Regions from separate parts of the Homo sapiens genome. Here region 2 is linked to region 1. A link means that fine-mapping ties the variant in region 1 to the expression of a gene that starts in the linked region. Tissue or cell type: aorta. Region 1 holds a variant in brackets; the other region holds the start of a gene. All regions are shown on one strand. Distances are from middle to middle.

Region 1 (8,108 bases):
AAGAGAACTGCATTTCTTGGGGGAGGTCTATAAATGGCCGCTCTGGGAGTGTCTGTCCTATGCAGTTGAGATAAGGACTGAGATACACCCTGGTCTCCTGCAGTACCCTCAGGCTTGCTGGAATTGGGAAACCCCAGCCCTGGTAAATTTGAGGTCAAACCCGTTCTCTGCTCTCGAACCCTGTTTTCTGTTAAGATGTTTATCAAGACAATGTGCGCACTGCTGAATATAGACCCTTATCAGGAGTTTCTGATTTTGCTCTGGTACTGTTTCCTCAGAAGCATGTGATCTCTGCTCTGCCTTTTGCCCCTTGAAGCATGTGACCTACTCCCTGTATGTACACTCCCTCCCCTTTTGAAATCCCTAAAAAAAACTAGCTGGTTTTGCAGCTCAGGTGGGCATCACGGACCTGCTGATATGTGATGTCACCCCCAGCGGCCCAGCTGTAAAATTCCTCTCTTTGTACTCTTTCTCTTTATTTATCAGACAGGCCAACACTTAGGGAAAATAGAAAGAACCTACGTTGAAACATTGGGGGTGGGTTCCCCCAGTACTGCAGAAATTTGCATAAGTGAAAAGGAGCCAAATACTAATAGCCAAGACAATGGGGAGAAGGCCTCAAAGATGTTTTAGAGATCTTTGTGGCAGCCTCTCCTATCACAGGCCCTGAGACCTAGGAGGACAGAATGTTTTGTGGGCCAGACACAGGACCCCATTGCCCTATGCAGCCTCAGGACACTGCTCCTCACATCCCAGTCACTCCATCTTCAGCCATAGCTAGAAGGGCCCCAGGTGCAGCTCAGAACATTGCTTCAGAGGGTGCAAGCTGTGAGCCATGGTGGCTTCCATGTGGTGTTAAGCCTGCAGGTGCACAGAGTACAAGAGTTGAAGCTTGGGAGCCTCCACCTAGATTTCAGAAGATGTATGGAAAAGCTTGGATGTTTAGGCAGAAGACTGCTGCAGGGATGGTGCCCTCAGGGAAAACCACTACTAGGGCAGTGCAGAGGGGAAATGTGGGGCTAGAGCCCCACACAGAGTCCCCACTGGGGCACTGCCTAGTAAAGCTGTGAGAAGAGGACCACTGTCTCCCAGACCCCAGAATGGTAGATTTACTGACAGCTTGCACCGTGTGCCTGGAAAAGCCAAAGACACTCAACACCAGCCTGTGACAGCAGCTACAGGGGCTGTACCCTGCAGAGTCACAGAGGTGGAACTTCCCAAGGAGCCCACTCCTTGTATCATTGTGACCTGGATTTAGGACATGGAGCCAAAGGAGATTATTTTAGAGCTTTAAGATTTAATGATGGCCCTGCTGGGTTTTGGACTTGCATGGGCTCTATAGCCCCTTTCTTTTGGCTGAGTTCTCCATTTTGGAAAGGCAGTATTTACCTGATGCATTTACCCCTATTGTGTCTTGGAAGTAGCTAACTTATTTTTTATTTTACAGGCTCGTAAGCAAAAGGGAGTAGTCTTGTCTCAGATGCAACTTTGGACTGTGGACTTTTGAGTTAATGCTGAAATGAGTTAAGACTTTGGAGGACTGTTCAGAAGGATGATTTTGTTTTGTAAAATGAGAAGGACATGAGCTTTGGGGGGCCAGGGGCAGAATGGTATTATTTGGATCTGTTCCCACCAAATCTCATGTTGAATTATACTCCCCAATGTTGGAGGTAGGGCCTGGTGAGAGGTGGTTGAATCATGGAGACAAATTTATCATGAATGGTTTAGCACCATCCACTTGCTGCTCTTCTTGTGATAGTGAGTTCCCATGAGATATGGTTGTTTAAAAGTGTGCAACACCTACCCTCTTACCCTCTCTTGCTCCTGCTCTAGCCATGATGATATGTGTGTTTCCCTTTCACCTTTTGCCATGATTGTAAGTTTCCTGAGGCCTTCTGAGAAGCTGAACAGATGCCAGCATCATGCTTCCTGTACAGCCTGCAGAACCATGAAACAATTAAACCTCTTTTCTTTATAAATTACCCAGTCTCAGGTATTTCTTTATAGTAGTGTGAGAATGGACTAATACAATTTGACTTAGTTTTTTTATTTTATCATGGTACAAAAGTGGTACACATGAAGTAAAAACTATACTTGAGTACCCATACAATCCTTCTGTTTTTCACTTGCAGTATAATATTCAATAAATTAAATGAGATTTTCAACACTTTATTATAATGCAGATTTTGTGTTAGATGATTTTGCCCAACTGTAAGTTAGTTTAAGTGTTCTGAGCACGTTTAAGGCAACGCAGGCTGAGCTATAATGTTTGGTGGGTTGGGTGTAATTAAATGCATTTGTGACTTCTGATATTTTTAACTTATGATGGGTTTCTTGGGATATCACCCCATTGAAGTTGAGGGGCATCTGGTTCTCACACTATTGCTGAATTGGTATAATATTAACATCGATTGTGATAAGTTAAAAATATGTGCCATAAACCCTTAAAGCAATGGCTAAAAAAAACAGAGTTATATTCATGACACATCTGAAAGAGATCAAAATGAATTGAAAAAAAAAGGTAAATAAAGAGGAAAAAGGAAACAAAGAACAAATAGGCCAAAGAGAAAATGAATAGCAAGATGGGTGATTGAAGTCTAACCATATCATTAATCATATAATATTAAATGTAAATGTCTAAATACCCAATTAAAATGCAGATTTTTCAGATTAGATAAAAAATCCAACTATATACTGCTTACAAAAAAATACTCTTTAAATATAAAGACAGAGCTATATTTAAAGTAATAGGATGGGGCTGGGCTCAGTGGTTCATGGCTGTAATCCTAGCACTTTGGGAGGCTGAAGTGGGCAGATCGCTTGAACTCAGGAGTTCAAAACCAGCCTGGGGAACATGGTGAAACCCCATCTCTACTAAAAAAAAATCCTAAATTAGGTGGGCATGGTGGTATGCATCAGTAATCCCAGCTACTTGGGAGGCTGAGGCATGAGAATTGCTTGAACCTGGGAGGCAGAGATTGTAGTAAGCTGAGATCATGCCACTGCATTCCAGCCTGGGTGATAGAGTAAGACCCTGTCTCAAAAAGTAAAAACAGTAATAGAATGGAAAAAGATATTGTGCTAACATTAATCAAAAGAAAGCAGAAGTGGCTGTAATAGTATTTGCCAAAGTAGATTT[C/T]GGAACAAAGAAGACAACCAGAAATAGAACAAGTCATTCCATAATGATAAAAGGGTCAATTCATCAAGAGGACAGAAGAAATCATAAGTGTTTATGCACTGAATAACAGAGATTTTTAAAAATAAAGTAAAAGGTGCAGGATCTGCAAGAAGAAATCAACAAATCCACAGCTAGAGGTTTTAATACCATTCTTTAAATAATTTGTTTGAAAAGGAGACAGAAAATCTTCAAGGATGTAGAAGAGTTGAACAACACTGTCAATCAACTTGACCTAATTGACATTAATAGAACACTCTACCCAATAATAGTAGAATATGCTATTTAGAATATATAATAGTAGAATATGTAAAAGAAATTACATTTCTTTTTTCATGTCCATATGGGACACTGACCATGGTAAACCAATTCTGAAATATAAAACAAGTCTCGATACATTTATAAGAATTAAAGTCATACAAAGCATGTTCTCTCACCAAAACAGAAAAATATCTGGAAAGTTTTCAAAGATTTAAAAAGTAAATACTGCACTTTTCAATAATAAATTAGTCAAAGTAGACATTAAAAGGAAATTAGAAAATATTTTTACGTGAATGAAAATGAAAACCTAACATGCCAATATTTGTGGCATGCTGTTAAAACAGTACTTACAGGGGAATTTTTAGCAGTCAGTAAAAGAGAATAAGGAACTCAAATCAATCACCTCAACTTCCACCTTAAAAACTAGGAAAATAAATGTATATTTAATCCAAAAGAAGCAGAAGAAAGGAAACGATAGGAGTAAGAGTAGAAATAAATGAAACAACTGAAAAAAAAATCACTAGGAAGGCTAAAGTAGCTCCATCTTGGATGCTAGTCCTCCATGTTGACTTTTGATTAACTGTAGTTTTGGGAATGCCTCTGAGATTTCTACTTTATCTACAGTTCCTTATGCATGAACACATAATTTCTGTAAATCTTGCCCTTAGGTGAAAACAAACTGGATGTTATAGCATAAATTACAGGCTATAAGGCACGTATTTTTTTTCCCAGAAAGAAGACTTTAATTGTCCTGCACATTCCCTCTGGAGCATGTATAACATTTCCCTATTGTACATGGGTCCCAGGCCTGGAGCATGTATAACATTTCCCTATTGTACATAGGTCCCAGGCCTGAAGAGCAGCAGCATGGAGTTCTACCTGTCTTGTGGCTGCCCAAGACCACATTCCTGTTTGTTAGTTCCCCAGTAAATAACCTTCTGCCAACTGACTGGATTTGTCTGCCTTGTTCTTTGGTTTCTTGGCTCCTTCTATGTTTGGGTGTCATTTTGCATATATGGACCTTTCATGAATCAATCACTGAAACCAAAAGTTAGTTCTCTGGGAATATCAATAATGTTGATAATCCCCTAGCAAGACTGATCAGGAAAAAGAAAATGAAAGAGGTGACATCACCACAGTCTCTACAGGGATTAAAAGGATAATAAGAGAATACTGTGAACAACTTTATGGTAATAAATTTGACAACTTGGATGAAATGGTCAAATTTCTTTAAGGATACACTTAACAAATCTTACTTAGGATGAAATGTATAACCTGAATTGCTTTTTGTCTATTACATAAATTAAATTTGTAGTTAAAAACCTTAAAGCAAAGAAAACTCTCATACCAGCTACTTCACTGGTGAATTCTGCAATTTAAGGAATAATTAAAATTCTACAAATTTTCTTCCAGAAAATTTAAGAGGATTATGATGCTTCTCAACTGTTTCTTTGTGGCCAGTATTACTCTCATATAAAAACCCAGGCAAAGACATTGTAAGGAAAAAAAATATAGGTCCATGTCCTGAGGAACATAGATGCAAAAAATCCTGACAAATTTTTAGCAAATAAAATTCAGCAATACATACAAGAGGGTTTATGCAAGTGGAGTTTATACCAGGAATGCAAGGTTGGTTTAACACTTGAAATCATCCAGTGTATCTCACCATATTAACACAAAAATTAATCTGTTGAACAGGTGATGTCTGTTGCCTATTATCAGGAGTAGAAGTCTGAGCATTTCTGCCCACTGCCTCTTGGTATTGGAGCCACCAAAGAAAATTCAATTCAGTCAATCACTGGATGGAACAATGCTTTATTCACACAAGAAGAGACAGAGCAAGATCAGTTTCAGTAGTTGGTGTCAGTCTCCATGGCCTGTGGGTCTCTCCTGGCAGCTGGCCTGCACACATGCCTTTTGTACTGCAGCAGAAGGACCCTGACCCCTCCCTGCAGAGAACAGATATAACAGTGGGATTAGCCAAGTACCATGTGATACACACACTTAAGCAGAAATAAAAGCACACACTGGGTCTGAAATAGGGAAAGATATTCCCACACAAGGCAACAAGCTCAGCACAGCCTGTGAAGACTCTTCATACTTTGGTAAGAAAGTGTTCCAGGCCCAGGGCCCATTCTTACACAGTCAAGTATGGGTCAAAAGACTACACGTAGGAGACTGCCTTTCCCAACAAAGACAAACCCTTTGGTCATCTCAGTAGGTGTACAAAAACACTTAATGAAATCTAATACCCATTCCTGATGTGAACTTCCAGCAAACTAGAAATGGAAAGGAGATTCCTCAACATGATAAAGGAAATCTAAGAAAAACCAACAGCTAACATTTGTGATAGTGAAAGACTTATAGTTTGTCCTTAAGGTCAGGAAAAGGTGAATGTCTGCTTTCATCACTTCTATCCAGCATTATTCTGGAGGTCTACGATAGCACAATGAGGCAAGAAAAAGGAAAGGCACCCAGATTGTGAAACTGTCTTTATTTGCAAATGACATAATCAGTTAAATAGAAAATCAGATGGAATCTACAAAAAGCAACTAGAACTAATAAATAAGTTTAGGAAAGTTGTATGGTACAAGATCAATACTTAAAAATTAATTCTATTTCTGTAAACTAGGAATGAACAATCCAAAACTGAACTATAAAACAAATTAGCACCTAAATGTTAACTACTTAGGGATAAATCTGACAAAAGATATGTAATGCCTGTACATTGAAAACTGTAACATGTTCTGAGAAAAATCAAAGGAGACCCAGATAAATATGTTTATAGGTCAGAAGAATCAAAGTTGCTATGATGTCAGTTCTTAAATTGATCTCTAGATTCAACACAATTCCAAACAAATCACAGCATTAATTTTTGTAGACATATACAACCAGATTCTAAAATTTTTACAAGTGCAAGGGACCCCAAATAGGCAGAATGACTTTAACAAAAAACGAAGATGGGGGGATAACACTACCTGATTCAAGAGTTATAAAATTATAATAAGCCAGTGTAGTATTAGTGCAAAGATAGGCATATTAAAGAAATAGAATAGAAAGTCCAGAAATAGATCCATGCATATGTGGACAATTGTCTGCAACAATAGTGCAAAGGTGATTCAGAGGAAAAAATGTACCTTTGCTTGAGCCTGGGAGGTAGAGGCTGCAGTAAGCCATGATCACGCCACTGCACTCCAGCCTGGGTGACAAAGTGAGAACTCACCTCAAAAAAAAAATAAATCAATACAATTTCCTTCTATACTCCTCCAGTCCACTGCTCACTCCTGCAAAATCTAAATGCCTGGGTCTCCCTGGGCTCTCAGCATTATCTCCTCAATTCAGGGAGTCCATGGCCTTCTCCACCTGGGTCACCCCTTGCTAGAGCCTGGAAACTCTGGCAGAAGTAAGCTAGGCGACCACAGGGCTCATTTTATTGACTGCCCAACTCCCAGGGATCACCTTCCTTCATTGCCTGATGTCCAGTGTCTTCAAAGCTATTGTTTTACATATTTTGTTGCTTTGTTTTTCTTGTTTTTGTTCAGGTGAGAGGGTGACTTTGTTTTCTATTTATTACTCCACTATGGGCAGAAGTGAAAGTCTTATTTTTGCTCTTTAAAAGATGAGTCAGCAATGTTCCTGCTTCCTGTAGTCTCTGAAAAAGTGTACATAGTATTGGAATTCAAATCTGGAAGATTGTGAGAATTCACATTGGAAAATTTCAGGACTGACGCATTTTTGTCAGGAAGAGATCATTTGACAAAAGATTTTAATTTCTTTTAAGGATACAGATCTGTGAGGACAAGATTTCTGTTATGATATCAAGTTTGGTAATTTTAATTTTCTAAGAAGAGAGGTACTCATTTTACTCATATTTTCAAATGTATTTACAGAGCTATAGACAGAGTTAAGACCCTTAAGTCTTTAATTTATTCTGTATCTGTGGTACTCTTCTCTTTGCCATTACTATTTTTTCTTTCTTCTTTCTCATTGAAAAAAAGGCTAAATATAGCTTCATTTTTTCTTAAGAAAATAATAGCTCATGTATACTTATCAATTATATGAGATCTCTTTTTTAATGTATTAATGTTTTCATTTTTTCTACTTTCCCTTGGCTTACTTTGTTACTTTTTTTAACTTCTTGAGTCAACTCCTTAATTAATCCATTTATATTTTTTCTTGTTTCATAGGGATGTATTTCAGATATCCATATGTGCATAGTATAAGCAAATGCTGAAACAAATAATTTGCTCAGAAAAATTCTGATTTATCAAATGAGGCATTCAAATTTGGCATCGTTAAATGCCATTAAGATTTGTTCCTCCAATGTTTCCGGGATCAAACAATCTGTAGTTAAACAAAGCAAACTTGTAATGTATATACTTAAATTGATAGTATATGTAAAGTGACATCTATTTGTTGCTGTAAAATTTGAGAAAATTTATGACATTATTTCCTTGTATATAGGAGACCTTTAGTAGAATTACTTTAAAAAAATAACTTATGTGCACGGCTAGTCCATAGGCATTGACCTGGGGAAAGTGTTTGACAGGGTCTTTTATTTTACATAACTTAGCAGACCAGGGAGCTGGGAAAGAGACTAGTAATTTGTATAAATAATTCAGGGATCTCCTGGTTGGTAAGAAACTGAGACCCCTAAAACCCTCTTTCTGTG
Region 2 (8,108 bases), 360 kb after region 1:
ATCCTGGCATGGGTAACAATGAAAAAAGCAATTACAAAATCAGAAAAAAATTCTAGTTTTATTTCAACTGAAAAACATTTCCTATATCCCTGTTACTCTTCTTTGTGTGTGTCATCTCACCCAAAATCAAGTTAAGAAAAGAAAGCATATGAATTTACAAATATAGCCATTTTCAGTTGGTCCACTTGGCTTTGACAAGAGGTCATGTATGTATACGGAGGTATGTACACTTACAGACACTTAAGGGAGTATGGGTCAGTTTCACATTTCTTAAAAGTGAAACATTTCAAGTAATAGCAATCCTTGAAAATGACTGCTATTATTTGAAATGAAAATGAAAAATGAAAAGCTCCATTCGTTGTTTGGCTATGCATTAGTGCTATGCATTATTGCTATACTGTACTTGAAGTTAAATGTTCATTCTCATGCCCTTTTCCATCAGATCCTTCATAAGGGGAAATAATTTCAAGAGAATACCAACACAATTCTTCCAAGGATTATTTTAACCTCATTGCTTTTTAGTCTCATCTTGAATATACTAAGTAATGAATTCCAAAATGCAATTACAAATTTATTTCTTCTAAAATTACATTTATATCAAGGGTAACATTTAAGGAAGATAAATGACAAAGTTATTAAAGTAAGAATGACAGCTAGAATTTTTTGAGCAATTTCTGTGTACTGGTATTGTTTTGGGAATGTTAAAATACATTATCTCATTTAATTCTAACAAGGACTCTGGAAGGTGCATGCTAATCTCTATTTCACAGATAAGGAAACTGAAGCTTAGAGAAATAAGCAAGCATTTCCCCAAATCATATACACCTTAGACCTCTGTTGTCCAATATGGCAGCCTGTGGCCACATACGGCTACTGAGCACTTGAAATGTGACTTGTTTGAATTGAGATGTGGTAGGTCAAACACATACCAAACTTTGAAGACACAGTATAAAGAAGTAAAGTACCTTATTAATAATTTTTGAATACTGACATGTCAAAATGATTCTATTTTAAATATGGTGGGTTAAATAAAATACATTAAAATTAATTCCATATATTTATGTTATTTTTAAAAAATCAGCTACTAGGAATGTTAAAATTACATATGTGGCTCACGTTATATCTCTATTGAAAAGTGCTGACCTAGACCTAAAGCTGAATACTGAATTTGACAGTAGATATCAAATACTGAAAGACTGGTAAAGAAGAGGCCACCTGCATTCACATGTCCTCTCCATCAATGATGGGAAGCCAGACGCTGGGGTTAGGATGAGGTGTAAAATACCTTACTACTACCATATTACAAAGACACACAAGTGAGGGTCCAAGAGGTTCTTATGTATACAACGGTTGAATTCTGGTGAAGAGAATTTATGAACTCTACTTCAGCTGATCAATGATCTTTTTATATCAAGAACTGAGACTAGTGAGTAAAATGATACTGGGCATGCAGAATTTTACTCTATGTTTTTCCTCTGGGTCATAGTGAAAATAAACAAATTGCTCCAATATGCTGAGTTTAGACTAACCTATTATTATAACTGAGAAAAGTAATCTGCACTAAATTACAAGAAACTACAAAATTATGTGGACCATATTATCCAATAATATTTTGCCATATTTGTTCCCTAGGCTTGTGTCAAGAAGTTAGCCATGGGTATGTGGCTTTATCAGTGTATATGTGCATCTTCATATCTTTAAGCATATATATCTAAATGTGAAGGGTGAGGCTGTTGGGGCATTTACTTAGATTATTTTTTGATGTATGCATTTGGCCTAACATTGACATGTGGCAATGTATCAGACTACCCTGCAGTTGGTTTGGTTTGTTTCTTTTTAATTGAGTGGTTGGGGGAGGGGGTAATAAGAATTTAAGTAACTTAAATGTAGCCCCTTAAATGCCATCCTCATACTAAGTTTAACACCAGAATTGTTCATCTCTTAACTATAAACATTTAACTTTAGGAAAATGATACTGGAGAAGTACAAAGCTATCAAATTTACAAATCTTAGCAGCAGAGACCACGAAAATATCTGCTTTATTCTAGTTTGGAATTTAACACAAGGATGAATAACATGCACGATTTTAGTTCAGCGATTAAAGTGCATACTCAGTTAAGGGGGGGTGGAGCAATAGAGAGAGAGCCTTCTCTTTGATCTCATAGGTTGCATTAAAAACTCACTACTCGTAATGAATTTTTGATCATCCCCTGGGTACACATAACTTGGTCCTTGCTCTTTCAAAATGAGTGGACTCAAACTGACTTACAATGTGACTGTGTCTACGGTGCACTTACAACCATCTTTCAGTAAAGGTCTTCAGATTTAGGCTCTAGGTAGAATAAGGCAGGAAAAAAAGGACACCAAAATTATCAGCAGGCATTAACTAACAAGAACTAGATGAAACAGTAATGTGTAATTAAATGATAATTAGAAAAATTTGCCAAAACTTTGAACTAAGATATTATCACATTTCTAATGCTTAAAATTACACGGAAAAATATATTCAGTGAATTTAAGAGAAAACAAACATTTTAAATCATTTATCAGCCATATTTCCAAAATGTATACTTTAGAAAAGAATTTATATATATATATAAAGGCTTATTAACATTAACTTTAAATTAGCTAATACTTGTGTCACACTTTTGAAGAAGCTTCTGTTTTGTTTCCAGGAACTGGTGGTGGTGGTGTGGTGGTGTTTTTTTTTTTTTTTTTTTTTTGGAAGGGGTTAAGGCGGCTATATTAAAAACAAAAAAACAAAAACAAACAGTTAAGCTGCATTCTTTTCCTGTGAATGGCTTATTTGTACTCCTCTGTTAATATTCTCGAAACCCCATTTAGCTTATGATGTCTTCAAATAATTTAATAATCTGTCTTTAAAGTTTTGCACTAAATTAGAGACTTAATTTTTGTAAAACGCCTTGGAACCATAAACCTTTAACGAGATGAGAAAGGTCTCCTTCCTCTGGACTTGACTTTACTGTATAGGTGTGTGAGCGATTTTTACTGTCAAACATTGCCAAGGCAGATTGTTGTTGTTCAGTCTGCAAATGTCTCGACTATACCTGCACAGTTCCTCTCTTCCCAAGACAAATCTATCCACCCCTTTCCCCCCTGCAAGTTTTAAACTTTGTTTCCTTGGGGGCTCTGTAACAAGCAATGCTAACAACGTCCAAGAGACAAAGAGCTGTTCTGTGGGCTAACACGATGCCAAATTTTAGTTGTGAAACAAAGCACTCAAATTTGAGATTGAGGAGGAGGAGCAGAATGACAATAGTAAAGCCTCCAGCTTGGAGCCACCCCCCAGAAAGCCCCTTCCCCGGAGCCCCGCGCGGGGAGTTCCAGCCCCGGGACGGTGACTCCGGGGTGCAGCCGCCAAGCCCCCGTGTGCCCTCGCTCACCGCTTCACGCGGATGATCTGGTCCCGCATGGGCTTGATGTCCTGGAAGCTCTGCTGGTTGACGAGGCTGTAGACGAGGATGAAGCCCTGGCCGTTCTTGATGTACAGGTCCCGCATGGACGCGAACTGCTCGGTGCCCGCCGTGTCCAGGATCTCCAGCACCGACGGCGACGAATCCACCTCGATCTCCTTGCGGTAGAAGTCCTCGATGGTGGGGTCGTATTTCTCGATGAAGGTGCCGGTCACGAACTGCACGGTCAGGGCGGATTTGCCTACCCCGCCCGAGCCCAGCACCACCACTTTGTACTCGCGCATCGTCCCTCCGCGGCCGCCGCCGCCGCCGCCGCCCGCGACATAGACCTACGCCGGCCGCGCTGCGCCCCCAGCCCCGGCCCCGGCGGCCCGCCCCGCCGCCTCCCGCTGCCGCCCCCACCTCACAGCCGCGGCGGCCCCCTGGGCGCCGGCGGCGGCGGCGGCAACTGAGGGAGCAGCGGCCCTGGGCATGGGCCGGGCCGAGCCGGGCGGCGATGCGGCCCCGTAGGCACCGGGTGGGACTGAGGGCGAGCAGAGAGAGAGACCGGGAGCCGCTGGTGCCGCCCGAGCCGCGGGCCCGCAGTGCCGCCCGCCCCGCCCCTCGCGCCTCCACGCCCAGATCCCCGCCCGCCGCCGCCGCCGCCGCCGCCGCTACCCCCAGCGCTCGAGCGCGCGCCCGAGCCCCAGCCGCAGCGCGGCCAGGGGCGGGGTCCGGCGGCCGGGGCGGAGCCCGCGGCGCAGCCCCGCCCCCGCCCCCTAGGCGACGGGCCGCGAGCGCTCCCGAGAGGCTTTGCGGGGCTCGGAAGCTTCTGCCCGCGCGGAGATAAACAAGCACCGCGACCGCCGAGCAGCGCCGAACCCAGCGCGCCCAGTCAGACCCCAGGGCCTGTGTACCGAGCATGCGCAGTTCCCGCCCAAGCCAGGAGCAGCGTCAACCTGAGACTCCCGAGACATTAAGAATTCGGAAGGGATGAGATGGTAGAGGGGCTAGAGCTACCTCCAAGCTTTATCCTGAGGCGGGGAGTGAAGGAGAGATGCCCAAGGCCCAAGAGGGGCCGCGAGGGCCTTTGTCCGATGCCACCCAGTCTGTCAGCACTCCTAGAGCTTTGGTTTTATCTTGTATTAGCATGTGAAGCTTTAAGGGGGGGGCACCTACAGGCTTCTGACTGAAGTTGTGTAAACGCAACAAAATGAAGCTTTGGAGCGTTAGGACATTGATGGGAGGGTGACGCCCCCCTCTAGCAGCGCGCCAGAGGGGCGAGTCAGAGGCGGCCACACACCACGGAAGTCGGGTCCAAGCCCGCTGACGTCGCCGGGGTCCCGCCCACCAACCCTCTGGACCCGCCCACATTTCTTCTAGACCCGCCCCTTTCGGTGCCGAACTGAAGTCGAGCTCTTCCCACGCCCTGTCAGCCACGGGTGAGTTGAAAACCTGGAGAGCGGAATCCCGAACGGCAGCCGGAAGGCCCTGGACTCCTCATAGCAACAGCCAGCTAGGGGCATCTAGTGGGAAGCTGGGATTCATTCTAGCCAACCACATCACGTCTCTGTACCACAAGGTACCATTCACGACCAATAAGAGAGCGCCCCCATACCACGTGCCTTTACTCCTTCAACCAATCGAGAAAAACGCTAGTCGTAGGATCCGCAAGCCCACCTCCCAGTGCCTTGCCAGGCGGGGCTCTTCGCGCACGCTCTGCCAACCAATCGTAGGTGAGCTGGCGAGTGACGGAAGCTTCGGCCAAGCCAACCAGAGCTCGCGAGCCCCTTGCCACCGAGGCCGGCGGGATGGAGACAGGGACCGGCTGCTGGGGTTTGGGAGGGGCAGAGATTGAGGAGCCAGTTGCTGTGCCCTGTTCTGGCAAAAGAACAAGATGCGTTGCAAGCCAGAATGATGAATTCCACTTTTCACGTCGCCTCCGTGGCATTCTGCCTAAATGATGGGCATGGAAATGGTGCTGAGGGATGTGGGCTGAATCGAGAACACAGGGACTTTTGTCTTCAGGGTGAGAAATGTTCCGGTCCTTAAGGAAACATCGTGCAGCAGTTGCATGGGTCTTCCAGGCGTTCCTCCCAAAACATTATTTTTTTTCTTTCACTATTGAGTTTTAAAACTTAGCGTTCTGTCGCTAGCATTGCATCTTAGTTACACATCCTCTCCCACCCATAACGTCAAATTTAGGAGACGATACATCCCCAAGCTTTCCTGCATTATTTTTTGCAGTAACTGGTTATTCAGTTTACTTTCTTTAAACTATGTCCTTCTCAAACTAGTCTCACCTGTTCGTTACTGTCGCACATTTCCTGCGAATAACACGTTTCTGTAGTTCTGTTGTTAGAGCCTGGCATACCTCTCCCCGTTCCTCTTTCCCACAAGGTCATCATGCAGAGGGGATTTTGGTCTGAGTTAAAAGCCAGGTATTCTTTCACCATCTTTTCTGTCGATAGTCAAACTACTACAAAGACTACTCAAATTTAGTAGTTTCTTATTTCCCTATAGCTTCGTTATATTAGAATGGATAACTTATATTTGCATTACCTTGCTGTAATGAACACACACCAAGTTTTCATTTAAAATTATCAAGGACAAATGTCCTCTGAATTTAAAAATGTGTATGTAGTAAAATATAACTCAGCATTTCTTGATTACATATCATTAAAATATGAATGGTACTATCTGAGCCACCAGAATCAGCAGTGAAGGTATTATATTAATAAAAAGGACTAAGAATCAGGACTGTTTTAAGGGAACTGGAACCGAAGAGGATCTACTATTTCATCCTAGGCTAGTTAACATGAAATAGTGAATTAAAATTGAAAGAGCTTACATGGATGCTTCATATCTGAGCTACTTTGGCAGGGATGTTTCAAGAGGATGTAGGTAAGTATGGTGTTCACCTAGCTTTCCAGAAGTCTCATATTTTGTGTAAAATTGGTATGCTTATTCATGGTTACTTTGGGTTAGTAGAAGCTATACTTCTTTTCCAAGGAAAGACAGACTGTCTTAAGATTCTAACTGTGCATCTTGGTGATAAGAAGTTCTTAGGGTTGTTAAATAGAGCCAGGAAGCGTGAAGCTTTCTCTCTAGATCATGACAACTCATCTAGTACCTTGCATTACAAAGGAGCTCTAAGTCCATTTACTTTGCAAGGAATGAAGTTCCAGTGATTAATGTTTTTGAGAAATTTGTATTGGGATTGTGGGGTCCAGAAGGTTGCCTTAAGTAACTGTTTTCATGACTCCTAGGTCCCTAGATGTTGAGAAGCTCTGGATTGAAGCTGTCACAAAAATAGTGAGTGGGCTCCGTAGTCACTCCATTTAGCATAATACAGAGTAGGACAGCTTTGTGACATTTCTCAGGCTATTTCCCCTGACCTCTCATCAATGCTGACGTTTTTGATAAGAAGGGGTATAGAGACTGCAGCCCTTGGGGTGGTTACAGTTCATTTATTTACAGGCCTTATATTGACAGGCCTCAGATTTCATGCTCAGTACCATAAAGGTTGATTTTTAACCACCAAGAGGCAAAAGAAACATGACAGGTCGGAGCATATTTTCTCACCTATTCTGGCTTAAATGATGGTACTTACCTGATTTGTGGTTGTAGGTGAAATGTTGGGTGAAAGATTAGCTGCTATAAAAAGGATGTCAGGACGTGTAGAGAATTTAGAGGACTTGGGTGGGAGATGGATGTCTATTTTCTAACCCCTTAGTCATGTTCATTCCGATGCCAGCATAAACTCTATTTTGAGATGATTATAGAAATAACTTATATCTTCATTTGTTTGTGGGAAATAAAAAATAAAAATGATATAAAAGAAATTTGAATTATTCCCAAGAGCTGTAAATCTGTAAGATAGTGAAAACTTAACGCAGTAACTGACACTGCAGGATCCCTTTAGTTTCCAAAGTGCATTGCCAGGAGAATAAAAAGAAAGAAAATCTTCATTTCTCCTCTCTCCACTAAATCTGAAAGGGAGTTATCTCACCTATAGCCAGATACCTTCAATTATCGCACTTGTGTTACCGTGGAAACCCAAGTCCATCCTTTCTTTCTGTAAAAGGTGTTGGAAAAGGTGGTATGAAGTGGGAAAGGTACTGTATTCTGGGACTTCCTGACACCAGCAAGAAGCAAATATGCAGATAATTTAATAGAAACAAATTAGTAGAGGATGTTTGTAATGCGAGGGGTACTTTTCGACTGTAAAACCCTGATTCCTAATGCTTCTTATTAAAGCCTGCATGCCTCTGATTAAACATAAAGGGGAAGGGCATGTCAAGTACATTTAGCACCTGTGAAACGCTGCTGGCAAGTATAAGGAGAGCAGACGATGGTTTCTTGACCTGTGAGGCTCCTAATACAGTTGAGAATCTGCAGTATATATGTGGAGTGGAAAGGAAGGGGCAAAATAAACTTTGTTCTTCCTTTAAAAAATGTGATATGTCTCAGTGCTTTTGAAAAGAAAAGGAATTAGAATGCAGAAATTAAGAGTATGGAAACAACTCAATAAAAGAAACGTATGGGTGGAGAGAGTAGATGTTTCAAAAGGCCATTTTAATCAGAAAAAAAATCTGAAAGAAAAGACGTAATGATTAAAATGTAGGCAGAAAAAAGAAAAAGCCTGAAGAATCTTAAGAGCTAGAGGATTCTGCGGAAAACAGAGCTTCAGTG

The links. PIP is the estimated chance that this variant, and not a neighbour inherited with it, causes the effect.
Region 2: RAP2A starts here. The variant in region 1 is fine-mapped to the expression of RAP2A in aorta (GTEx, PIP above 0.99).

Annotation. Positions count from the first base shown.
Region 1 is chr13:97,785,661-97,793,768 of GRCh38, reverse strand. No RefSeq gene overlaps it. Among named protein-coding and RNA genes, the nearest start is that of IPO5, 160 kb to the left of the region's middle. The variant C/T (reference allele first, on the strand shown) is at 3,140.
Region 2 is chr13:97,430,081-97,438,188 of GRCh38, reverse strand. RAP2A (RAP2A, member of RAS oncogene family) reads right to left here and starts at 4,020. Exons shown (of 2, transcript NM_021033.7): 1 at 3,405-4,020. The coding sequence starts at 3,718. RefSeq lists silencers at 3,844-3,903, 3,924-4,283 and enhancers at 4,434-4,483, 4,504-4,633, 3,905-4,836, 4,784-4,923.